Regions from separate parts of the Homo sapiens genome. Here all the other regions are linked to region 3. The links come from fine-mapping of genetic effects on gene expression. A gene starts in region 3. Each other region holds a variant in brackets. All regions are shown on one strand. Distances are between the middles of the regions.

The links. PIP is the estimated chance that this variant, and not a neighbour inherited with it, causes the effect.
Region 1: its variant is the best candidate, but not a certain one, in a credible set for the expression of SORD in NK cells (Gilchrist 2021, PIP 0.89).
Region 2: its variant is the best candidate, but not a certain one, in a credible set for the expression of SORD in whole blood (TOPMed, PIP 0.89).
Region 4: its variant is the best candidate, but not a certain one, in a credible set for the expression of SORD in transverse colon (GTEx, PIP 0.64).

Annotation. Positions count from the first base shown.
Region 1 is chr15:45,071,594-45,076,990 of GRCh38, forward strand. SORD (sorbitol dehydrogenase) reads left to right here. Exons shown (of 9, transcript NM_003104.6): 8 at 724-845; 9 at 1,772-5,397. The coding sequence ends at 1,937. Among named protein-coding and RNA genes, the nearest start is that of DUOX2, 40 kb to the right of the region's middle. The variant C/T (reference allele first, on the strand shown) is at 3,031.
Region 2 is chr15:44,826,961-44,834,932 of GRCh38, forward strand. It overlaps the pseudogene SORD2P. Among named protein-coding and RNA genes, the nearest start is that of TRIM69, 94 kb to the left of the region's middle. The variant G/A (reference allele first, on the strand shown) is at 3,160.
Region 3 is chr15:45,018,041-45,025,686 of GRCh38, forward strand. SORD (sorbitol dehydrogenase) reads left to right here and starts at 5,155. Exons shown (of 9, transcript NM_003104.6): 1 at 5,155-5,309. The coding sequence starts at 5,244. RefSeq lists a silencer at 4,935-5,104 and an enhancer at 5,874-6,524.
Region 4 is chr15:45,092,349-45,098,028 of GRCh38, forward strand. It overlaps DUOX2 (dual oxidase 2), which reads right to left. Exons shown (of 34, transcript NM_001363711.2): 27 at 5,661-5,680; 28 at 5,266-5,393; 29 at 4,890-5,043; 30 at 3,480-3,712; 31 at 3,089-3,247; 32 at 2,588-2,743; 33 at 2,215-2,343; 34 at 302-1,924. The coding sequence ends at 1,802. Among named protein-coding and RNA genes, the nearest start is that of DUOX2, 19 kb to the right of the region's middle. The variant T/C (reference allele first, on the strand shown) is at 3,353.

The DNA of each region.
Region 1 (5,397 bases), 52 kb after region 3:
CATTCTTCTGTCTCTCACCGCACTGAGCACAGTGATCCCCAGAAAGCTCTGGAACAAGCACAGCACTCACAGGGAGTTCTGGGGAAATTTTCAGGAGAAATTTCACTGCTGCCTGTGACCCACTCCAAGTGGGGAACTGATAAGGCAGATAAACATTCAAGGAAGACAAAACCCATTATGGCTCATACTGTTGAGGTAAACATCTCTGGAACAAAAAGATTTCTAACTGCCAGCCTGCATGCATGTATGAAGCCTTTTTTAAGCCACAGAATACAAGTGGCCCATCTGTCTCATGTTTATAGTTTTCTCACCACCGGTGAGCTTAGAGGGCCAGTGGTTCCTTCCAGCTCTGATGAAAGTGCTGCCTGTGGAGGGGCGCTCTGGGGGAGGAACAGGTGCTTAGACTGTGGAGGTGGCTGAAGCCAATATTGGGTCCCGAATCTGTAAAGCTTTGGAAGATGTTCCCACTGTGCCTGGTTCTCCATGGGTTAAGTGTATGTTTTCACAATACACTTTAAAGAAAACCGTGTTTACTCTCCCGCTCAGTTAAGTTTGGTTGGCAGGTTGAGCAGTTCAGCAGTGTACACAAATCACATTCTCAGGAATTTTTGGATGCTCAGCTGATGCAACCAGAAGATACTTGTGTGATGACAATATGTTATTGTAAGTGGGAAGTCAGTATTTCTTATCTTCTGAGCTTTCTTGTTTTTACCTCCTTTACAGGCCACTCGCTCTGGTGGGAACCTCGTGCTTGTGGGGCTGGGCTCTGAGATGACCACCGTACCCCTACTGCATGCAGCCATCCGGGAGGTGGATATCAAGGGCGTGTTTCGATACTGCAACACGTGAGTATGCCGTGGGTGAGCCGGGATGCCCAGCCTCCAGCAAGACCATGGCAGGCCCCACTCAGCCTCTGGGCCCATGAGTCTCTGCCTGTTTGTTCATGGGGGGCACTCCCTGGCCACACTGATAGCTGTGTGATATAACAGGGATCCAAAGAGAGAACACTCACTGCCAGTTAAAGAATGGGAGGAACAGAAGGATGGATGGAGGGAGGGAAGGAGGGGATTTTGAAGCATAGTCTTACTGAGTGTCTGCTGCTTATCCCCCCCAGGCCCCTTTTTTCCCCCTATTTTCTTAAGTTGCCAGGTCTCCATTTTCTCCCTTTAAAGGGAAGAAGGAGAGAAAGGAGGACAAAAGGAAGAAATCAAGTCCTGTGGCTTCCGTTCCTTAGCCCTAGGGCCCACCCTGGGGAGCGAAAGGGTCTTAGTTTGCCCCACCCATGTTCTGCAGCTCCACCCTCTCCCCTGCTGGGGCCCTCTGGCTGGGACCCCTCTCCCCAGCAGTGTCCCTTACTCCTGGCTTTAGAGGCTGTAACTCCATGCCCTCATCAGGGCGCCAGTTTTCCAGTAAGCTGAGCTGTTAGTGGGTGTGACTGGATTGTCCCGGGCTGCCTCCCCACGGCTTCTCTGCCTTTTCCCAGTGGCCTCCACCATGTGCCTTGTACCTTCATGCCACAGGAATTCTAGGCTCCATGGCAGACGTGGCAGAGTGAGCGGGTGGGTGAGGGGTGGGGGCAATTGCAAATAGGCTCTGTACCCCTGAATCATAAGCCATAAGGTCCTTTCCTGGGTTGTTGGCCTGTAAAATTGGCTTTGCAGAACCACAGTGCTATCAATAAATACGGCCAAGCTGATCTAGTGCTTGGTAGTTTGGGGCACCTGGCTCTTTCCTCTTGAAGGTTGAATATAATGCTCGTGCTCTTTTACAGGTGGCCAGTGGCGATTTCGATGCTTGCGTCCAAGTCTGTGAATGTAAAACCCCTCGTCACCCATAGGTTTCCTCTGGAGAAAGCTCTGGAGGCCTTTGAAACATTTAAAAAGGGATTGGGGTTGAAAATCATGCTCAAGTGTGACCCCAGTGACCAGAATCCCTGATGTTAATGGGCTCTGCCCTCATCCCCACAGTCTTGGGATCTCAGGGCACAATGGCTGGACATGGGTGGGCTCTGATGCAGAACTTTCTCTTTTGAATGTTAAGAATAACTAATACAATTCATTGTGAACAGAAGTCCTTAAGCAGAGGAATTGGTGTGCCTTAAAGATACAATCTGGGATAGTTTGGGGGAACTTGTAGCCAGAATGCCCTGTTCATGCTGAGCAAAGTTCAGCAAGTAGAGCAGAGTTTGGCAGGCAGGTGCCAGGAACTCCCCTTCTTCCTGGAGTGCCTTCATTGAGGAAGGAAATCTGGCCCTTGGGTTTCCTGGTTCCACTGCTACTGACCCAGAGGGGAATGAGGGCTGAGTTATGAAAAGATAACTTCATGAAGACTTAACTGGCCCAGAAGCTGATTTTCATGAAAATCTGCCACTCAGGGTCTGGGATGAAGGCTTGTCAGCACTTCCAGTTTAGAACGCAATGTTTCTAGAGACATATTGGCTGTTTGTTTTGATGATAAAAGGAGAATAAGAAAAGGCATCACTTTCCTGGATCCAGGATAATTTTTAAACCAATCAAATGAAAAAAACAAACAAACAAAAAAGGAAATGTCATGTGAGGTTAAACCAGTTTGCATTCCCCTAATGTGGAAAAAGTAAGAGGACTACTCAGCACTGTTTGAAGATTGCCTCTTCTACAGCTTCTGAGAATTGTGTTATTTCACTTGCCAAGTGAAGGACCCCCTCCCCAACATGCCCCAGCCCACCCCTAAGCATGGTCCCTTGTCACCAGGCAACCAGGAAACTGCTACTTGTGGACCTCACCAGAGACCAGGAGGGTTTGGTTAGCTCACAGGACTTCCCCCACCCCAGAAGATTAGCATCCCATACTAGACTCATACTCAACTCAACTAGGCTCATACTCAATTGATGGTTATTAGACAATTCCATTTCTTTCTGGTTATTATAAACAGAAAATCTTTCCTCTTCTCATTACCAGTAAAGGCTCTTGGTATCTTTCTGTTGGAATGATTTCTATGAACTTGTCTTATTTTAATGGTGGGTTTTTTTTCTGGTAAGATTTAGACCTAAAT[C/T]GCATCATGCCAACTTGTGACTTTGAGACTATTCATCAAGAATGAGGATATAGTAGCCATGACATAGCTTGAGCTATAGCCTTTAATTCCTTACTTTGGCTATGGGTGGAGGGTGAGTTTGAAGAGGTTCTGATTTTCTTGTAACCTGGGAAAGCCATGACCTTGTGCCCGATTCTTTCAGATTGCTTTGGGTAATAAATATTGGTGGTGGTATCTGACTCATGCTGCTGTTTATGGTCCTGTTTAGTGGGGAATGGACTCAGGTTACCCATTTCCCAGAGGGAAGGATCCCAGGATTTTTGAAGGTTACATATTTTCTGTACCAAATATAATTTCATTGACATGAATTATCTCTAATCCTCATGACAAGCCACATACACAATCATTTTGTAGATAAAGAAGATATAAATGCCAGAGGAGACCTTAAGATTGTCTTACAACACAACCCTTCAGTTAACGAGAGAGGAAATTGAGGCTCAGATTGGGGAAGTGACTTGGCAAATCACACAGTGGGTTAGTCAATGGCCCAGGATTAGACAGAACCCAGGAATCCTGACATCAAATCCTTTACAACATGCTGCCTCTCATAGGCCTGAGGTGTCCAGTCCTAGAGGACAAATGATGCTCCCCATGCCACCACCCCCACCAAGCAGCTCCTACTGATGAGAAGATGCACTAAGCAGTCTTGGTGGAAACATCTTCCTCACGCCCTGTGCCCCCTTTCAGGTGCCCAGAGAAGGAGCTCCAGTGTCTGCTTCAGCCAGGGCTTTAAGAGAGAAGGAAGCTGGGAGTGAGGGGCAGAGGCTCTACCAGAGAATGTCTGCTGGTGTCTTGGAGGCACTTCCTGCAGCCTATGCATGCCTCGTGAAGCCATTTCACTGCTGCCCCTTCATCCTCCTCCTCCCTGAGCCCTAGGTAGAAGTCAGTGTGTGGAGGAGGCCACCCAGAGATGACCCTGACCAGGCCCCACCGCCTGTAGCCAGACCCAGCCTCTGTCCCAGCTGGCTGCTAATTTCTGAGCATTTCTTCCCTGTTATTTGGCCTCTGTACCTTGAACCTAGGTTGACATCATGAGCAGAGGACAGTTCTTAGGAAAGGCAAATATCCCATAAATCCTATTTGCCTCTCTTTCTCCTAACCTCTGGCTCCACCAACTCCCCAACAGGCCTCCTGCACACACAATAGGAGTCAGGAGGGAGGAGGCAGGACTGTGCTACACAAGGGAGACTGGGTGGGGAAGATGTCAGAGAACCAGTGACTGAGTGCAGAGGTGACTTCACACCAGCATCTGCTGTAGCCAGAGGTGGGCTGCAAGAGGGAATTAGAGGAGCCAACATGTCCTCTTTCTCCTTTAGGGTCCATGGAGCAGTCCGCTGCTTCCAGGTTGCCTGTGGGGTCCTTCCCAGCTCTCCGCCCTGACACGTCTTCACTCCCTAGCACTCGTGGAGCTGACTGGGTGGGGACCTCAGTGTTGACTGAAAGCGTGAATCAAGTGCCAGGCACTGGTGACAGAGCACACAGAGGCTGCTGGGCCTCCCAAGGTCGGGGAGCTTGTGGGGAATTCACATTCTTGGTTCCGGGACTGATTCACTGAGTCAATCAATATTGATTGAGCACTTAGTTGGTTGTGGTGGTGGTAGGAATGAATTCCTGGGCTTCCTGCAGCCCCTTTCCATGAATCTATACATATCAAACATGTGCATGCATTTGTAAACATTAATGGGAGTGTACTTTACTTTTTTCATTTTACTCATAAACAGACGAGGACTTTAAAAAAATCACAATTATTAAATAATTCCCATTACTATACCTGACAAAACTAATAATAATTTCATAATAGCTAATACCCCGTCAATCCATGCCATATTTTCCCTCATCTAAAAAACAGAAAAAATTACTTTTTTTTCCCCCAAAGACAGGGTCTTGATCAGAGCTCACTGCAATATCAAACTCCTGGGTTCAAGTGATCCTCCTGTCTCAGCCTCTGGAGTAGCTGGGATTATAGGCATGCACCACCATGCCTGGCTACTTTTTGTAGAGAAAAAAATTTAAAAAGGTCTCACTATGTGGCCCAGAGTGTTCTTGAATTCCTGGCCTCAAGCAATCTTCCTGCCTCAGTTTCCCAAAGCACTGAGATTACAGGCATGAGCCACCATGCCCAGCCAAAACTTTACTTTTTTACACTTGCTTTTCTGGAATCAGGATCTAAACATATTGCATGCGGTTGATATATTAAGCCTGTTTTATTTTTTATTTTTTCTTCTTTCTTAAGCCTCTTTATTATAGTTCCCCCTACATTTTGGTTCACATGCCACTGTTATGTTGAAGAAACTGGGTCCTTTGTCTTCTGGATACCGTTTTACAAAC
Region 2 (7,972 bases), 190 kb before region 3:
ATTCAAAAGAGAAAGTTCTGCATCAGAGCCCACCCATGTCCAGCCATTGTGCCCTGAGATCCCGAGACTGGGGATGAGGGCAGAGCCCATTAACATCAGGGATTCTGGTCACTGGGGTCACACTTGAGCATGATTTTCAACCCCAATCCCTTTTTAAATGTTTCAAAGGCCTCCAGAGCTTTCTCCAGAGGAAACCTATGGGTGACGAGGGGTTTTACATTCACAGACTTGGACGCAAGCATCGAAATCGCCACTGGCCACCTGTAAAAGAGCACGAGCATTATATTCAACCTTCAAGAGGAAAGAGCCAGGTGCCCCAAACTACCAAGCACTAGATCAGCTTGGCCGTATTTATTGATAGCACTGTGGTTCTGCAAAGCCAATTTTACAGGCCAACAACCCAGGAAAGGACCTTATGGCTTATGATTCAGGGGTACAGAGCCTATTTGCAATTGCCCCCACCCCTCACCCACCCGCTCACTCTGCCACGTCTGCCATGGAGCCTAGAATTCCTGTGGCATGAAGGTACGAGGCACATGGTGGAGGCCACTGGGAAAAGGCAGAGAAGCCGTGGGGAGGCAGCCCGGGACAATCCAGTCACACCCACTAACAGCTCAGCTTACTGGAAAACTGGCGCCCTGATGAGGGCAGGGAGTTACAGCCTCTAAAGCCAGGAGTAAGGGACACTGCTGGGGAGAGGGGTCCCAGCCAGAGGGCCCCAGCAGGGGAGAGGGTGGAGCTGCAGAACATGGGTGGGGCAAACTAAGACCCTTTCGCTCCCCAGGGTGGGCCCTAGGGCTAAGGAACGGAAGCCACAGGACTTGATTTCTTCCTTTTGTCCTCCTTTCTCTCCTTCTTCCCTTTAAATGGAGAAAATGGAGACCTGGTAACTTAAGAAAATTGGGGGATAAAGGGGCCTAGGGCGGATAAGCAGCAGACACTCAGTAAGACTATGCTTCAAAATCCCCTCCTTCCCTCCCTCCATCCATCCTTCTGTTCCTCCCATTCTTTTTTTTTTTTTTTGAGACAGAGTCTGGCTCTGTTGCCCAGGCTGGAGTGCAGTGGTGCGATCTCCGCTCACTGCAATCTCTGCCTCCTGGGTTCACACCACTCTCCTGCCTCAGCCTCCCAAGTAGCTGGGACTACAGACACCCACCACCATGCCTGGCTAATTTTTTGTATTTTTAGTAGAGACAGGGGTCACCGTGTTAGCCAGGATGCTCTCGATCTCCTGACCTCGTGATCCGCCTGCCTCGGCTTCCCAAAGTGCTGGGATTACAGGCATGAGCCGCCACGCCCGGCCTTCCCATTCTTTAATTGGGAGTGAGTGTTCTCTCTTTGGATCCCTGTTATATCACACAGCTATCAGTGTGGCCAGGGAGTGCCCCCCATGAACAAACAGGCAGAGACTCATGGGCCAGAGGCTGAGTGGGGCCTGCCATGGTCTTGCTGGAGGCTGGGCATCCCGGCTCACCCACAGCATACTCACGTGTTGCAGTATCGAAACACGCCCTTGATATCCACCTCCCGGATGGCTGCATGCAGTAGGGGTACGGTGGTCATCTCAGAGCCCAGCCCCACAAGCACGAGGGTCCCACCAGAGCGAGTGGCCTGTAAAGGAGGTAAAAACAAGAAAGCTCAGAAGATAAGAAATACTGACTTCCCACTTACAATAACATATTGTCATCACACAAGTATCTTCTGGTTGCATCAGCTGAGCATCCAAAAATTCCTGAGAATGTGATTTGTGTACACTGCTGAACTGCTCAACCTGCCAACCAAACTTAACTGAGCGGGAGAGTAAACACGGTTTTCTTTAAAGTGTATTGTGAAAACATACACTTAACCCATGGAGAACCAGGCACAGTGGGAACATCTTCCAAAGCTTTACAGATTCGGGACCCAATATTGGCTTCAGCCACCTCCACAGTCTAAGCACCTGTTCCTCCCCCAGAGCGCCCCTCCACAGGCAGCACTTTCATCAGAGCTGGAAGGAACCACTGGCCCTCTAAGCTCACCGGTGGTGAGAAAACTATAAACATGAGACAGATGGGCCACTTGTATTCTGTGGCTTAAAAAAGGCTTCATACATGCGTGCAGGCTGGCAGTTAGAAATCTTTTTGTTCCAGAGATGTTTACCTCAACAGTATGAGCCATAATGGGTTTTGTCTTCCTTGAATGTTTATCTGCCTTATCAGTTCCCCACTTGGAGTGGGTCACAGGCAGCAGTGAAATTTCTCCTGAAAATTTCCCCAGAACTCCCTGTGAGTGCTGTGCTTGTTCCAGAGCTTTCTGGGGATCACTGTGCTCAGTGCGGTGAGAGACAGAACAATGGATAATTCAATCATGCTGGTTGTTCATTATAGTCAGCAGCAAGCATTTATTGGGACCATTCTAGGTGCTAAACAGTGGAACTAGAGAAAGGCACATGTCACAGCCTCCATTTCTGAGATGAAGGATACACCACGATCACAGCCTCCACTTCTGAGATGAAGGATACACCATGGAGAGAGGCCTGTGGTGCCGTGAGCAAGAGGTGAACTCAGGGTTTGAGTGGTGTGGGAGTGACTCCCAGCGCTGCTGCTTCAGAGCTGTGGCACCCTGGACGTGCCCTCTCAGCCCATTTTCTAGGGAAACTACTTCCTTATCAGCACTTCCTCTCTACCTGGTGGTGAGGAGGAACACCAACTGGCCATTCCAAGCTGCCAAGATGCCAGCAGTTTGCTGACCCAAGGTCAAGGAATGCTGGAACCACCTGGACACTATCCTGTAGGTATGGCATCTGCATCAAGGATATGACATCAATTCTACCCCAAGGCATCTGCCATGTCTCATCACAAACACTATCCAGTCATAACCTGGCAGGACGGCGATGCTCAGATTTGTCCATATTTGGTCCAGCCACCTAGCCTGCTCATTGGCGGGGTGGCCTATAGCATTCTACAGCACCCGTCATGCGTGACGTCAGGAGAGACACTGCTTCAGGCCTGGTGAGGCCCATGGGTCACATTCACCTCCATGCCTGCCTCAGGTAGCCTGGCAACCAGGCCCCCACCATCAACAGTGGAAATGCCAACTGTTCCAAATGCTCTAAGGGCAGGGCACAAGAGGAAGGAGAGCCATGTCCTTTAAGTCCCCCAGCTTATACTGCCTCTCTGC[G/A]GGGTGGAGGTCACTTACCTGCTGACAACTTGAAGACAGCAGATGCAACCTACTCATGTCTTAGCCCTCAAAGTGCCCAGCACAAAGCCTGGCACATGGTAGGTGCCCAAGACATACCATGGGTAGATCAATCACACACAGATCCATTGTTCCTCTCTGAGCTTCGGCTTCTTTTTGCCCCTTCCCACATGGCGACCACTGCCTATGACAGTGAAGCAGAGGGCTGGCGGACTCCAGCTGAAACTCACGACACTGCCAAGGTGGCACCCGCTCCTCCCTCTCCCCCACTGGTTCCTCAGCTCCCAAGGCCGCTGGGCAACTTAGTAGGAGGAGGTCTAGGCAGCTCTGCTACTCAGCTTGGTGGGTCAGCCTTCCCTAGAATGTCTCATGTGATGCAAAGTGCCCTCCTGCTGTGAGCCTCAGAAGGAAGGAGGAAGCCCACGCTACCTGGGGAGGCTGTCTGGGAGGCAGGGACAGGAGACCCCTGTGGTGGCGGCTGCCTGCTACCCTCTCCAGCCCTGGCCCTGTCCCCCCACCCTAGCATGGTTGTTCGTGCCCTCCTTCCCTTCCTCTCCTAAGCAGCGGGGCAACTCAGGCACTGGGGCCTGGCAGGGCTGGGCCTGGGCCTGACTTGGCTTGCCTCAAACAAACCACAAATCCCTCAGCATAAAACGGTAACTGGTTTTCAGGGCTGTTGTGCAGATTAGGCCTCATGTTTATAAAGTACAGCAGAGAACCTGGCATACAGTAGGGCTTGGAACCTGGAAGTTGTTATTTTCCCTTCGTTTCCTCATACTTTGATCTGTCAGTGCCACTCCCTCCCACCACCTCCAACTTCCTGCCAACTTCCCATAAGTGGCTGGTGGGTCGCTGAGGGGCGAATCAGGCATTGGCAGCTTATCTGTTCCTAGGTCTGGGAGACAAAACAAGCAGTAGTCAGCTGTGACCCTGGAAAATCACCTCACCTTCATGACTAACTGAATGACTGTCACTTTATATCTATGACTAAAAGACTGCAGTTTTCCTCAATAAAATAAGACAGAGATTTCCCACATACAATTAAGGCATGGTTCCCTGTTTTTCTTCTTGATCTTTTTACCAAAACTACTGCACTTTTAACATCACAGATATGATCATGAAGCCAACTGCGTCCCCAAAGTGTGTGTCCTTAACATTTTTCAAGGCCCATGTATAGCTGTTATCTTGTGTGAACCTCAGATGGCCCAATGAGGATGTAAGGCAAGTTCAAGTACAGGCTCCACACTAGAGATAAGAAAACAGAGATGGCAAAAGATGAATAAGTTTGGCTTGGGGCTCACGCAGCAAGCTGGTAAAGAAGTTTGACTCCCTACTTCTGCCTCCTTCACTCCCCTACGCTGATTCCCCAAAGCTGCCCTCAGCCCACTCACGTAGATGCCTGCCTGGATGGAGGCCTCTGCCCCGTGCACTCGATGGTGACTTCCGGCTTGCACCCCAGCAGACCTTCTACTTTCCTGGCGATTTCCTGAGGGCTCTCCTTGGAGATCTGGAGGACTAAATCAGCCCCAATCTCCTTGGCTTTGGACAATCGGGTAGCAGACAGATCTGAAGGTAAAAAAAAAAAAAAAAATTCTTTCAAACAAGAGAAATCTGATGACTCATTAGGAAGAAAAGAAAATGGAGGTGTAAGATCTGATGGCAACAAAGCTCTCGTGCAATGGGTGGTGGTGTTGAGCCCAACACACATACTCTTCACACCAAGCTTGTCCAACCTGCAGCCCACATGCAGCCCAGGATGGCTTTGAATATGGCCCAACACAAATCTGTAAACTCTCTAAAAATATTATGAAATTAAAAAACAGTTTTGTAAAGTTCATCAGCTATCATTAGTGTTAGGGTATTTTATGTGGGGCCCAAGACCATTCTTCCAATGTGGCCCAAGGAAGCCAAAAGATTGGACACCCCTGCTCTACACCCTCATATACCCCCATATCCACCATACAGCTACACACACACACACACACACACACTCTCACACAAACTCTCTCTCTCTCATAGCTTCTCCTAACACAAAACACACACTCACACTCCTCTATATCTCCACAATCCATATGACACTACACACTCACCCCCTCCACACTGTCACGGATAACCTCTCCTCACACATGCACATACAGTAGGACCAGCTGTTTCCCAGTCAAGGAGATTGATAAAGAACAAAGTCTTACCAGTCACCACTACTTGAGCTGCTCCCATTGCCTTGGCCACGAGCAAAGTGACTACCCCGATTGCCCCTAAACAAAGCAAAAGATATAAGATTGTGAAATATTAAACATCTGCTCTCCCACTTGTCCAGGCCACGGACAGGAACCATATCTTTTGTGTGTCTCTAGCATCTATCCCAGTGCCTGGCATGATAAGACCTTAGCGGCTGTTTGTTGAATGCAGAAGAGAATGAATCCATGAAGAATTATTCTCTACATAAAATACGCTCCTAGTGCTGGGTTCTATTTAATCCTCTCAAACCTCAGAGCTAAAATTTTCCCACTTACTCCTGGGCACTAGTGGAGATAATCTCAAAGAACCACGGGATTCAAGGAAACACAAACTTACTCAGAAAATAAGAAATCTCAGAAGGTCTGGACTTGTTTTCCTGTTCTTTCTTTGCCCCTACCTTCGTGAGAACCCATCACACCTCCCCCAGAGAGAGACATATTCCTTTTAGGTGCCCTCTGAGGACCACCTGGAGAGGGTTCTTAAGTGAGCTGGCTCCCTGGGTTGGCCCAGGTGCCCAGATAGCCCCAGGATACTCAGGTATCCAAGGATTTGCCTGAGACACCTGCTTCCCCATAGTATCTGCATGCTATGTGACACTATGGTTTTAATATAAAAATCAGACCCACAGAATGAAAGCAATGCAGAATATCTTTGGGGGTTTACTTTTTGTACACATCCCCTAAGAACAATTTTGTGAGCTCCCTCAGAAAACAAAACACTGAAAAATAATACCTGAAATGTCCAACAAAGCATGATTAAAAAACTACATGGCTACTAAAAATTACGCCATAACTCTTTATCTATTGACATGGAAAAATGTTCACAGTATATTGATTTTTTTTTTTTTTTGGAGACAGAGTCTTGCTCTGTCACCCAGGCTGGAGTGTAGTGTTGCAATCTCAGCTCACTGCAACCTTCGCCTCCCGGGTTCAAGCAATTCTCTCACCTCAGCCTCCTAAGTAGTGGAGATTACAGGCGCCCGCCACCAAGCCTGGCTACTTTTTGTTTTTTTAGTAGAGACAGGGTTTCACCATGTTGGCCAGGCTGATCTCAAATTCCTGACCTCAGGTGATCTGCCTGCCTCAGCCTCCCAAAGTGCTAGGATTACAGGCATGAGCCACTGTGCCCAGCCTGATTTTTAAAAAAGAGTAGGTAAAGGAAGCGTATTTAGCATGGTCTCAGAAAAAACCAACTAACTAAAAGATTCTATACCCAAATATTAATAGTGGTTCTCTTGGGCTAATCGGTAATGGGATTACAGGTGAATTTCTGTGTGTGTGTGTGTTGGGGGCAAGGCATGCATGTGTGTGGTATGTGTGACTTATTTTCCTTTTCTATGGTAAAAAGGTACTGGATCCATGCAGATTTTTATAAGAATCTGTCACCTGAGTCCCGCAGTCTGCTAGCCCATTGTGGCAAGTCTATTCTACATCCATCACCCCTCTTAGGAAGCCGTGTGATCACTTATTTGGCCAGCCAAAGAAAATCACAAACAAGTATGAGGAACACCAGATCACACCCACAAGGAGTGTGAGCGTACTGTCTGGGTCACCAGAATGATTCGTTCTGAGGCTGCTAGGGCTTGTTCCAGATGGCTGGAAAGATGGCTGGAAACAGGGGATGAGAGAAGGCAGCTAGCTACAACCCTACTGCAGGCAGACTGCTGGCTCACAGTGGTGTGGGAGCAGACCACTGCTCACTCCTCCCACTGGCTGGGAGCAGGGTCTACCTTATTCATAGATGGGACTAGGCCATCACTTTGCTGGTATAATTTGAAAGTTCCAAGAGTTGCCCTTCCCTTTACTATCAAAAATATTTCTCTAAGGTGGAGGTTGCAGTGAGCCAAGATCACGCAAATAAAAAAATTTTCCTAGTTTCCCATCAAGGGTTCAAAAATAATCGCCAGATTAATTCCCTTTTTTTTTTTTTTTTTTTTTTTTTTTGAGACAGAATCTCGCTCTGTCGCCCAGGCTGGAGCGCAGTGGCATGATCTTTGCTCACTGCAACCTCTGCTTCCCAGGTTCAAGTGATTCTCCTGTCTCGTCCTTCCATGTAAGTGGGACTACAGGGGGCGCACCACCACACCCAGCTAATTTTTGTATTTTTAGTAAAGATGAGGTTTCATCATGTTGGCCAGGCTGGTCTTGAACTTTCGGCCTCAAGTGATCCACCCGCCTCAGCCTTCCCGAGTGCTGGGATTATAGGCATGAGACACTGTGCCTGGCACAGATTCATTCTTTTTGTTTGTTTGTTTTGAGATGGGGTCTTGTTTTTTTTGAGACAGGGTCTTGTTCTGCCACCCAGACTGGAGTTCAGTGGCACAATCATGGCTCACTGCACTCTTGACCTCCCAGGCTCAAGTGACCCTCCCACCTCAGCCTTCTGAGTAGCTGGGACTATAGGCACACACTACCACACCGGCTAATTTTTGTATTTTTTTGTAGAGATGGGGTTTCACCATGTTACCCAGACTGGTCTCGAACTCCTGGGTTCAAGTGATCCACCGGCTTTGGTCTCCCAAAGTGCTGGGATTATAGGCAGGAGCCACCGTGCCCAG
Region 3 (7,646 bases):
TTCTGTTAGCTTTTGAATTTGTTTGCTCTTGCTTCTCTAGTTCTTTTAATTGTGATGTTAGGGTGTTGATTTTAGATCTTTCCTACTTTGTCTTCTGGGCATTTAGTGCTATAAATTTCCCTCTACACACTGCTTTAAATGTGTCCCAGAGATTCTGGTACTTTGTGTCTTTGTTCTCATTGGTTTCAAGGAACATCTTTATTTCTGCCTTCATTTCATTATTTACCCAGTAGTCATTCAGGAACAGTACAGTTTTCATGTAGTTTTGTGGTTTTGAGTGAGTTTCTTAATCCTGAGTTCTAATTTGATTGCGCTGTGGTCTCAGAGGCAGTGTGTTGTGATTTCTGTTCTTTTACATTTGCTGAGAAGTGCTTTACTTCCAACTATGTGGTCAATTTTGGAATAAGTGCTATGTGGTGCTTAGAAGAATGTATATTCTGTTGATTTGGGGTGGAGAGTTCTGTAGATGTCTACTAGGTCTGCCTGGTGCAGAGCTGAGTTCAAGTCCTGGATATCCTTGTTAACATTCTGTCTTGTTGATCTGTCTAATATTGACAGTTGGATGTTAAAGTCTCCCATTATCATGGTGTGGGAGTCTAAGTCTCTTTGTAAGTCTCTAAGGACTTGTTTTATGAATCTGGGTGCTCCTGTATTGGGTGCATAAATATTTAGGATAGTTAGCTCTTCTTTTTGAATTGATCCCTTTACCACTATGTAATGGCCTTCTCTGTCTCTTGATCTTTGTTGGTTCAAAGTCTGTTTTATCAGAGACTAGGATTGAAACCCCTGCTTTTTTTTTTTTTTTTTTGGCTTTCCATTTGCTTGTTAGATCTTCTTCCATCCCTTTATTTTGAGCCGATGTGAGTCTCTGCAGGTGAGATGGGTCTCCTGAATACAGCACACTGATGGGTCTTGAATCTTTACCTAATTTGCCAGTCCATGTCTTTTAACTGGGGCATTTAGCCCGTTTATATTTAAGGTTAATATAGTAGGCTTCAGAAGGTTGGTAATAACATACTTCTCCCAGCTAAAGAAGGATGTTTGAACCCATCATGCATTGTTATGTGTGAATTTGATCCTGTCATTTTGATGTTAGCTGGTTATTTTGCCCATTATTTAATGCATTTTCTTCCTAGCATTGATGGTCTTTAAAATTTGGCATGTTTTTGCAGTGGCTGGTACTGGTTGTTGCTTTCCATGTTTAGTGTTTCCTTCAGGAGCTCTTGTAAGGGAGGCCTGGTGGTGACAAAACCTCTCAGCATTTGCTTGTCTGTAAAGTATTTTATTTCTCCTTCACTTATGATGCTTAGTTTGGCTGAATATGAAATTCTGGGTTGAAAATTCTTTTCTTGAAGAATGTTGAATATTGGCCCCCACTCTCTTCTGGCTTGTAGAGTTTCTGCTGAGAGATCCAGTGCTAGTCTGAGGGGCTTCCCTTTGTGGGTAATCCGACCTTTCTCTCTGGCTGCGCTTAACATTTTTTCCTTCATTTCAACCTTGGTGAATCTGGCAATTGTGTGTCTCGGGGTTGCTCTTCTTGAGGAGTATCTTTGTGGTGTTCTCTGTATTTCCTTAATTTGAATGTTGGCCTGTCTTGCTAGGTTGTGGAAGTTCTCCTGGATAATATCCTGAAGAGTGTTTTCCAACTTGTTTCCATTCTCCCTGTCACTTTCAGGTACACCAATCAAATGTAGATTTGGTCTTTTCACATAGTCCCATATTTCTCGGAGGCTTTGTTCATTTCTTTTTACTCTTTTTTCTCTAAACTTCTCCTCTCACTTTATTTCATTAATTTGATCTTCAATCACTGATATCCTTTCTTCCATTTGAATGAATTGGCTGTTGAAGCTTGTGCATGCATCACATAGTTCTTGTGCCATGGTTTTCAGCTCCATCAGGTCATTTAAGGTCTTCTCTACACTATTTATTCCAGTTAGCCATTCGTCTAATCTTTTTTCAAGGTTTTTAGCTTCTTTGCGATGGGTTTGAACATCCTCCTTTAGCTGGGAGAAGTATGTTATTACCAACCTTCTGAAGCCTACTTCTCTCAGCTCATCAAAGTCATTCTCCGTCCACCTTTGGTCCGTTGCTGATGAGGAGCTGTGATCTTTTGGAGGAGAAGAGGCACTCTGGATTTTAGAATTTTCCGTTTTTCTGCTCTGGTTTCTCCCCATCTTCGTGGTTTTATCTACCTTTGATGCTGGTGACCTACAGATGGGGTTTTGGTGTGGATGTCCTTTTTGTTGATGTTGATGCTATTCCTATTTGCTAGTTTTCCTTCTAAGAGTCAGGTCCCTCAGCTGCAGATCTGTTGGAGTTTGCGGGAGGTCAACTCCAAACCCTGTTTACCTGAGTATTACCAGTGGAGGCTGCAGAACAGCAAATATTGCAGAAGAGCAAATGTTGCTGCCTGATCCTTCCTCTGGAAGCTTCGTCCCACAGGGGCACCCGCCTGTATGAGGTGTCAGTTGGCCCCTACTGGGAAGTGTCTCCCAGTTAGGCTACATGGGGGCCAGGGACCCACTTGAGGAGGCAGTCTGTCCATTCTCAGAGCTCAAACACTGTACTGGGAGAGCCACTGCTCTCTTCAGAGCTGTCAGACAGGGACGTTTAAGTCTGCAGAAGTTTCTGCTGTCTTTTGTTCACCTATGCCCTGCCCCCAGAGGTGAGGTCTACAGAGGCAGCAGACCTTGCAGAGCTGCGGTGGGCTCTGCCCAGTTCAACCTTCCCGGCTGCTTTGTTTACCTACTCAAGCCTCAGCAATGGCGGACGCCCCTCCCCTGCCAGGCTGCTGCCTCAGACTGCTGTGCTAGTAGTGAGCAAGGCTCTGTGGGCGTGGGACCCACTGAGCCAGGCACAGGATTTAATCTCCTGGTGTGCCATTTGCTAAGACCGTTGGAAAAGTGCAGTATTTGGGTGAGAGTGTCCTGATTTTCCAGGTACAGTCTGTCACAGCTTTCCTTGGCTAGGAAAGGGAAATCCCCCAACCGCTTGCGCTTCCCGGGTGAGGCAATGCCCCTCCCTGCTTCGGCTCACCCTCCATGGGCTGCAGCCACTGTCCAACCAGTCCCAATGAGATGAACCAGGTACCTCAGTTGGAAATGCAGAAATCACCGTCTTCTGCATCGATCACACTGGGAGCTGCAGACCGGAGCTGTTCCTATTTGGCCATCTTGGAACGGAATCTGGATGATTTACTTTTGGCTACCAATTTGGAAGCCTCATGCCAGCAGGCTACTCTAGATCTCTTGAACTTTCTAGGTAATCAAGCGGGCAAGGTGTCTAAACTGAAAGCCCAGCTCTGCCTACAACAAGTCAAATATCTAGGCCTAATCTTAGCCAGAGGAACCAGGGCCCTCAGCAAGGAACAAATACAGCCTATACTGGCACCGGTCCCTCAAGGCGTAGCACCAACCAGATTGATAAACTCACTTATCTGACCTTGTGGCCCTCGCCCAGAAACTGACTCAGTCCAAGAAGACAGCTTAGATCCCCTATGATTTCATCTCTGACCCAAACAATCAGCACTCCTGACTCACTGGCCTTTCCCCACCCATCAAACTATCCTTAAAAACTCTGAGTCCCCGTATGCTCGAATGCTTGGGGAGCCGGATTTGAGCAATAATGAAATTCCAGTCTCCTGCATAGCTGGTTCTGCATGAACTCTTTCCCTATTGCAGTTCCCCTGTCTTGATAAATTAGTTTTGTCTAGGCAGCAGGCAAGGTGAATCCATTGGGCGGTTACATATTGGGGAGGGGGGACTGTAAGGGAATGAAATCCTGAGCATTATCCTCAAAGGAGGGAGGGGCCTTATAGACTTAGGCCTATCTAGAAGCGCCTCTCTCCTCAGAGAGTAAAACCTCACTGTTTCTCAGAGGGCTGAGAGGCTTGAAGGAAGAGTTTGGGCAGAAACTCTGCTTTGAATAGAAGCAGCAGATCCAGTTGAGAGAAAGAGGTTCACAAATTCCATTTCATGGCTTTTTTTTTTTTAAAGACAGATTTTCACTCTTGTTGCCCAGGCTGGTGTTGAATGGCATGATCTCAGCTCACTGCAACCTCTGCTTCCCAGGTTCAAGCTATTCTCCTGTCTCAGCCTCCCGAGTAGCTGAGATTAAGGCGCATGCCACCATGCCCGGCTAATTTTTGTATTTTTAGTAGAGACGGGGTTTTCACCATATTGGTCAGGCTGGTCTCGAACTCCTGACCTCAGGTGATCCACCTGCCTCGGCTTCCCAAAGTGCTGGGATTACAGGCAAGAGCCACTGCGCCCGGCCTCATGTCTTTTTTATACTTAAGCACCAGGCCCATGTAATGATGCACGAATTCATTTACTCCTACTCGTGCCAGGCCCTTTCCTGGGGGCTGGAGACAAAGGGCCGACGTGGACGCTGCGTCATGGTAGCACCTGTCTCGCAAAGTGCACACCGTGCTCCACCCACAGCCTCAGCATTCTCGTTGCTAGGAATATGGACCCTCAGGCAGCACCTCAGACCTAGACCTACTGTATCAGAATCTCTGTGCTGGTCCTGAGAATGTGCATTCTCAACAGCGCCTCACATTCCCCACCCCAATTCTTCTGCAGCTAACGTTTGAGAGCGCTGGTCTGGTGCCTACTGCCTCTGCAGGCGGTTTTCAAGGCAGCCGTGTGTGCTTGCATGTGAGGCGGCAAAAACAGCGCGCTGCAGGGCCGGCGCGGTGGCTCACGCCTGTAATCCCAGCACTTTGGGAGGCGGAGGCGGGTGGATCACGAGGTCAGGATATCGAGACCATCCTGGCTAACACGGTGAAACCCCGTCTCTACTAAACAAAAATACGTGGTGGTGGGCGCCTGTAGTCCCAGCTATTCGGGAGGCTGAGGCAGGAGAATGGCTTGAACCCGGGAGGCAGAGCTTGCAGTGAGCCGGGATCGCACCACTGTACTCCAGCCTCGGCGACAAACAAACAAACAAACAAAAAAAACAGCGCGCTGCAGATGGAGCCAGCACCCGGGCTTCTCGCTCCCAGCCCCCTCCCGAAGCCCCGCCCCGCCTCCGGGTCTGGAGGAGGCTGGGAAGCCCCGCCCCTCCACGCTAGCGCCGCCCAGGCTGGCACAAAGGAGGAAGCCTAGTCCCGCCCCTGCGTGCGGCGCTTCTCCCAGGCCCCACCTTCCATCCAGTGCCCTGGACCCTCGGCTGGGTAGCGCCACCAGAGCGACCAAACGTCCCGCGCCTTCCAGGCCGCACTCCAGAGCCAAAAGAGCTCCATGGCGGCGGCGGCCAAGCCCAACAACCTTTCCCTGGTGGTGCACGGACCGGGGGACTTGCGCCTGGTAAGCTGGGAAGGAGGGTGGGAAGCATACCGATCCTGCCTCACTCTCCTCTGAGCCCAGCCATAGTCCTGGCTTCCCACTTCCAGCCTGGCGCCGGCCCCGCACCTTAAGCGCCCTGGCTGCCCAGATCCCAGCTGGTTCCCCTCGGGGTGTGGGGGCAGCAGGTAGTGGCTGTTGCGAAGGGCAGGGATCTAGTCGTGTGCCTCCCGGAACCTAGCCCCGTGGCTGGCACGTGGCCGGTGCCCAGGACGGTTGCAAACTGTTTGAATGAAGCTTTCTCTCTCCTTTGCCAGCTGCAGATTCATAGTCCAGCCTCTTGTCATTGACCTTTCCAAAGGAAATGCTAAGGCTGTCTGAATTATCGGGGCAGACCGTGCAGAGCAGAGAAAGGGGGGCCAGAGGACACTTAGAAACAGCAGAACTTGTATTTAACTCCCTTGCTTGGGACTGATAAACCTCCCTTGCAGGATTATGATGATCACAAGAGTACTCAGCACTTAGTACGTGCTCAGGAAGTGCCAGCTCCTTCTCCTTTCCTTCCAGTCTAGGCCTCCATCTCCAGAACCCCTGCTGTTCCCCTTGCCTGTGCCAGACTTGTGGATCTTGATAGCTCCCTTGTCTGTAAGGATCCTTCTCTCCCTAAGACCCTGTCTGGTTCACTTTCCAGCAGTTTTTCTTTCCAATCCCGTGCCTCTGTCCCTTTAGGAGCATTCTGTATGTGTGTCCTCTGCCTTAGACCCTGCCTTTTGCTCCCTGGCTTGTGGCACCAAAGTTTAGGAAGTGGCTGAGTCAGCAGCCTAGTCATGCCAAGCCTCCCTTGACAAAGTCCCTCTCAGATGGGCCTGGGATGGCAGTGGGTATGTGGGATGAGTGCCAGCCATCTCTGCTGCTCCCCTGTACCTCTTTTCCCTCAAAGTACATGCGTCAGTATGTAAACTGCAGTAATTCAGAAGCTTATCCAGGTTAGCAGTTCTTGACTATTTAAGAATCTGTGGTGTCCCCTCCACAGAATGCAAATAGACTGAGTTTGGCAACAATTTCAGACTGCTCAAGGACTCCCTTTAAGCCGCTCTAAGCCCCTCTATAGAACCCTTGTCCCAGCTGACTCTCCATCTCCTCAGTTGAAGAAAGTACCATACCCAAGGTGATAGGTTTTGTTAGTTAACAGAGCCACGACAAGGACTCAGATGTTCAGACTCCCCATTCTAGTGCTCATTCCACTCTTTGGAGCCTCCACCCAAGGTCCTGAATTAAAGTGAGGCTGTTAGTGTTTACTGTTGCAAATGCCAGATGGTATTATGAGTAAGGGAAAGTGGTCCAGCTCTACCCAGCTTGCAGAGTGATTTCCAACTCAGTACTTCATTCCACAAACATTCACTCATGAAAGGGTGCCTGCCATGTGCCAGGCACTGGGCTGAGGGCCCAGAAAGGAGGACACAGCCCCTGCTCCCAAGTTTACTGAGGGAGGCAGACAGATAAAGTCAACAATTATGACAGAGCCCGAGGGCTTTGATGGAGGCCTCAGAGAGAAAAGACGCCACAGGGAGGGGCCCTTGGCCCTCTATCTGCTCAGAGCCTGCTTAAAAGTCATGCACCTAAGGTGCAGAAACACAGTTAAGTTCTCCTTCATCTTACCTCAAACTCATGGTCTTCCACTGCTCAGGCAGACTACCTCTACTATGGTTCCGTAGACAAAGCTTTGAAGATTAGAGCAGCAGCGAACTAACCTTGATCTCATCAGCTTTGCATTAGAACCCACTCTCTGACTGGATTAGGGGCTAGGTTGGGGTGGCTGTAACCTGAAGTATCTAGAAAATATGATGGGCTAGAGAATTTCACCTTTGGTTGTGTGCTGGAACACTAGCTGGGTAAAAGAGTTCAGAGGAGGATTTAGGAAAACACCTAGGCTCAGTTTGAGAATGGGAAGTGGTAGCGTCATTTACTAGTCAGAGTAGATTAAAATGATGAGATCAGGTTTGAAAAGTTGAGTTTAAGATGTCTCTGGAGGCCAGGTGTGGTGGCTGATGCCTGTAATCCCAGCACTTTGAAAGGCCAAGGTAGGCAGATCGCTTGAGGTCTGGAGTTTGAGACCAACCTGGCCAACACGGTGAAACTGTCTCTACTATAAATACAAAAATTAGCTGGGTGTGGTGCCACATGCCTGTAATCCCAGCTACTTGGGAAGCTGAGAATCGCTTGAGTCTGGGAGTCAGAGATTGCAATGAACTGAGATCGTACCACTGCACTCCAGCCTGAATGACAGCAAAACTATGTCAAAAAAAAAAAAAAAAAAAAGATGTCTCTGGGACAGGACACAAGGTGCCTTTGAGAAATTTC
Region 4 (5,680 bases), 73 kb after region 3:
CAGAGGAGTTAAGGGATTTCCCTCCATAGCTATTTGCAGATAAAGTGGGCACTAGAATCCAGGTCTCTTGACTTCTGATTGGTGCTCTTCCAGCCTTGTCAGAGAGATACCTTCAACAGAGGGGGTTGGGAACCAGAGGCATTTGGCCTGGCTGAAGAGGTAGGGTGGGGCCAGTGAGAAGACAAACCTGGTCTGAAACTCTCCCTCCACAGGTCCTACTGGCTGGATAACTGTATGACCCAGCAATTCCACTCATAGATACATACTCAAGAGAAATGAGTGCATGATGGCCACCAAAACATAGGTACAAGAACACTCACAGAATTTTTATTTATAATCATTCAAAATTAGAAACAACCCAAACGTCCATCAACAGAAGAATAAACAAACTGTGGTACATCTCTACAATAGAATACTACTCAGCAATGAAAAGGAACAAACTGCTGATACACACAACAGCATGGATGAATTACAAAGGCATTATGGTGAGTAAAAGAGGCCAGTCTCAAAAGAGTATATTTAGTAGGACCAAAACTGGATTTGGTAGAAATCACATCAGTGGTTGCTTCTAGGAGCTAGGGGAGACGAAGTGGAAGGGGGTACAAGGGGAGTTTCTGGGGTGATGGAAATGTTGAAACATTCTATGTCTTGACCTGGGTGGTGGTAAAACATGTACATGATTATTTATTATACCTCGATGTAAAATATTTTACAGCTCAGCTTTTTAGGAAAGAGCCCGATGAAAAAGGAAAAGAAAAGTTAAAGAGCTGAGTATGGAGGGGATGTTTCAGCCTGGCTCTTGCGTAAGGTGACCAGCTGTCCCAATCTGCCTGGGACTGATGGGGTTTCCTGGGGCAAGAGACTTTCAGTGCTAAAACAGGGAGAGTCCTGGGCAAACTAGGACAGCTGGTCACCCAACTCTTGTGGAAGAGGGGAATTGAGATCGAGTACTGAATATCTGGCAGAGAGGCTGGAATCCTTCAGCCCCAGAGCCCAGGGACCACTCCAGTAGATGCAGAGAGGGGCCTGCCCAGGGGTCAGGGCAGTGGGTATCACTGGTGACATCAAGAATATCAGGGCTGGGGAGGCATCTTTGTTTCCTGGTGCCCTCCTCAAAGTTGCTGACACTTTGGGGACGGGAAGGGGTAGAAGTAGGGCTGCTCCTTTTGGAGCTGGAGGGAATAGACCTGGAGACAGAGTTGAGGCAGTCGGGCTGTCCAGGTTCTAAGCATCACAGCTTCTGCACTGGGCTCTGAGGAGATTCTCAGCCAGAGGATCCCAGCCTCCTCCTCCCTCAAATGTCAGTCCAAGCAAATACCAAAGCAACGCATCGATTTTGTGGAAGTCAATTAGAGATGTGGGGAGCTATCGGAGACAAGCACTATTGTACCTTTTCACCTCCACACTTGTCACAAGCAGGGACTGTCTCCTCCCCACTTTGCTTGCCACGCCTGCCATGGCTTGAGCTGGGGTGAGGAGTGGTCTTTATCTTCTTTGGGAGATCCTGACTGGTTGCGCACTTGCTAAGGGCAGGAAGTCTGGAGGGCTGCAGGAATGGTGCCGTTGATAAACAGGTGGACTTATAATCATCATGCACTGCAATTGTAGAACATAGTCTCCTGCCTTTTCTCATTTGTATAATTGTCTGGGTCAATATTCTCCCAATATTGGGAGGGGCTCTGCAGCCCTCCAGCTGAGGCCTAAGGTGGATTCTGATGGAGAGATTGCCAGCAGGGCTGGGCAACTTAGGTGCACAGAAGAGAAGGCAGGATACTGGAAGCAGCAGCCAGGGAGGACAGGCTCAGAAGTTCTCATAGTGGTGCATGAAGTGGGCTCGGTCCTGCCTGTTGACGAGCTGACAGGCCTTCTCTACATTCTTGGTCATTCCTGGAGGGCCGCAGCTGAACACCCCGATCTTGCGCACCTGTCAGGAGATTGGAGAGAGAGAGGGGCCTGCAGCCTAAAGGTGCTCACTCTCCTTGGGAAAAGCTGCTTCCTGAGCCTGGCTGGAATGACTAAGGCTTCAAGCCCAGGCCTTGAGGAGGAGGCTTAACGTGGAGGGGGTGGAAGTCCCCCTTTAACAGCTGACCTCATCCTGGGGCCAGGCAATCGGGTGGAGTTCTCTGCTCAGAACAGAGTGGCAGGGTGCTTCAGGGCCAGGATGTCCTGGCAGGAGAAGGCCAGAGTCCCAGGGTGGGAGGGAGTGGGACTGACCTGTGGGTGGACCTCCTGCAGGGAGTTGAAGAAGGGCTCGAAGGGGGGACGGCCAAAGTGGGTGATGGAGCGCAGGCCCGTGAACAGACTCCGGTTCAGCACTTTCTGGAAGTGCCGCTCGCAGATGTACTGGGGGCACAGGGGCAGGTCAGACCAAAGACAGTCAGGGCCAGCACTCAGCCCGAGCCAGCCCACATAGCCCAAGAGACAGAGAATGGGGAGGGGAGGGAGCTGGAGGCTGAGGATCAGGCCATCAGCTCTGTGCCTCCTGCCAGCTCAGCCTGGCCGTCCACCCACCTGCCCTGGCCATCCTGCCTTACGCTGCCAATCCATCTGCCCGCCAAGTTGCCCTGCCTGGCGGGCCCTGACATACTAGCATGGTGGTCCTGAGGTCGAACTTCTCAGCCAGCTGGGTGACATAAATGTGCACAGACACCAGGTCCTGGTGGTCGTTCTCCTCCACCTCTTGGATGATGTCAGCCAGCCACTCAAACTGACGCTGGGTCCGTGTCACCCAGATGAAGTAGATCTGGGGACACAGGGCTGGAGATCAGGACCCAGCTCAGTTCAGCCTCCCTAGATCCCAGGTGCCTTCACCTGAGAGGCTGGGAAGCCCCAGACCACCTGCAGACACCAAAGCTGTGGCAGGACCCACCAGCCTGATCCCAGGCTTCCAACTGACAGGTCCCAGCAGAGGCCCTTCTGGCTATACCACCAACCTCCCTCCAAGTTTGGCATCTCAACCACTGGGTAAGAATGACCCCTTCAGACTCAGTTCCTGGAGCCAGGAGCTTTCTCTCATGCTCCACCACTTGATGCGGGTCACAATTCGGCCACCTATGCCCCATTTGATGAATGAGGGAGGGATGCTCACCTTCTTACACAGCATTTGGCTGCCCAAGGATGACTTGAAGACCAGGTCTTTGAGGATGGAGGCAAAGGGGGTGACCCCAATGCCCCCTCCCACCAACACTGACACCTCAAATTTATGCCACTCCTGATGGCCCTCTCCAAACGGTCCATCAAGGTACAGCTGCCAAGAGAGGGGGGAGATGAAATGAGCCTGACCCTGCCCCAGCTCTGAGACCAGAAACGGAGACACAGGCAGAGGGAGGATACAGAACATCCTAGTCTTTTC[T/C]GAGGCACCCCGGTCCTCTCCCAGGCTGGCTTTGGGACGGCTGGAGCTTCTAGTCTCAGGATAGGGAAGGGCAGAGATCCTCTGCCAGTGCCAGAGGCCCGGAAGCAGGGTTCCCAGTGACGGGCACCTTTGGGTATCCAGCACAGCCATTGCCCTTTGGGGATGAGTAGATCTCCCTGAGGCGAGTGGTCCAGGGCCCCACTGCCCGGATGTGCAGGCTGAGTGTGTCCTCATGGGGCGCGGAGGTCAGTGTGAAGGGGTGGTACTCGGTGGTCCCCAGAGCCAGGCAGGCGATCCGCACCCACTGTCCTGACTTGTACTCAAAGCCTTGGGGCCTCTGGAATTGCAGGTAGGTCACTCCTGGAGGTCATAGACAGGGAAAAGCACAGATGAGAAGGCCTGCTCCTGGTACCTGAGGACTGATAGGCACCTGTCCTCTTCACACCCCTGAGGCCTGGGGAGTAGTCACATGGTCTGAGCAAGCGGGGCTCCTGGGGCTGGGAGTAGGAGGGTCCCCTTCTCTGTTTCCCAGGTAATGCAAGAGCTGGGTTTCTCTGCTCCCCTGTTCCAGCCCCTCTCCTCCTCTCTACTCCCTCTTCCCATGGAAGGCCCAGGCCTCATACCACTGCCTTGAATACCAACCTGCTGGGTAAAGGGACTCAGGCTCACCAGGGACCATCTCAGTGGCTACCAGACCTCCATTTGAGGGTTACCTTTCTACACACCTCCTGCACTATCATTTATCTAACACTTTTCTTTAAATTGACTAACTTTTCCAATTCAATTAATCTTGGCAGGGAACTTTATTGCTAAGGTAAGTGGAAAACCAGTATCATGTGTCCTACATAGAAGACAACATATTTTGTTACCAAATTTTAGCTGGATACTGTTTGTACCATAGCTGAGCCTCAGGCCTGATCTCTTCATTGAAAAAGGAGATCAGCAAGTGCTGGAGAGTAGAAAGGCATACTAACACCACTCTGAGATTTTGTCCTTAAGTAATCTCAATTGAAATAACATTGCAATGAGATTAATTTTTTTACAACATGAGTCCTGAAGGTTAGACAGTCCTGAGATACATAAAATCATCTTTTGCCACCCTCTATGATGATACCAATCCCGACTTTGGCCAGCACTGACTCTCAACAACCCAGACTGGCAATCTGGGCATTTGCCTGTCTCTGAGAGAAGGAATGGGACAGGCATATGTGGCTTCCTGCCCTGCACTTCCCCTGCACCCAGGCCACACATGTGGGGCCCTTTCCCATCCTCAAACCCCTCTGTATGCACGTTCAGCCACCTCTTCTCAGGTCACTTCTCACCATCTGCAAGTCTCCTGGGAGCTAAGCACAGCCCTTTCTGGGTCTACTTCTATCAGGAAACCTTCAGGAACCCCCGAGAGTGGTTTTTTGTTGTTGTTGTTTTTGGAGACAGAGTCAGAGGCAGTGATGGGGTCAGGAGACCTGGTGAACTGTCTCCCCATGTCTGAAGATTTGGCCTCTGTCGCTCCCGACCCAGGTCAGGCTGGGCCTGATACCTGAGGGCAGCAGCTCCGCCTTCACCACGCTGATCTCCACCTTCTTCCGGCTCAGGCTCACCAGCTTGTCACCTCCATAGATGATTGCCGGGACCAGGAAGTAGATGTGGAAAGTGGGCAGCTGGATCAGAGCATAGCTGCCATGGATGATGAGCTGGAGACACGGCCAGTTAGTACAACTCAGGCCCAGCCAGGCCCCTGCCCGGCATCCCCTCTTGCCCAGGCACTAGGCCTGTGCCGGGGAGATAGGGCTGAGGTCTGGGGTCTTAAATCTCAAAGTCTCATTCTGAGATCTTGGATCCAATTCTCCCTCTTTCACCTTCCTGTCCCATCCTGAGCTCCCTGCTCCATGGGCTGGCCCAGGGAAGTCCCTCACCAGGGCATAGAGCAGGATGTAGAGGTGGTGGGTCAGCCAGAAGCCCCGGAAGCTGCGGCGGCGGAAGTGGTGGGAGGCGAAGACATACATGATGGCCAGGACCAGGAGCAGAAGCACACCTGTCATACCTGGGGGCAGGAAGACAGGGCCAGTGAGTAGTCTCAGGACTTCAGCTTGGGCTGAAAAGACAACAGCACATTCCCCTATCCTTCCCTCCTTCCTCTCTCATCCCTCCGGGGCCCCCAGAAAAGCCTGCCTGGAGGGATTTGAGCTGGGGCTTGTCCTGAAGGCTAGAAACAGACCCCATGGCCAGTATAGACAAGTGAGTATTCACAGAGAGATGGAGACAAAAGCAGAAGTCCTCAGACAGAACCCCCAGGTCCCACGTTTCCTACCTGGGACGGTCTGGAAGAAC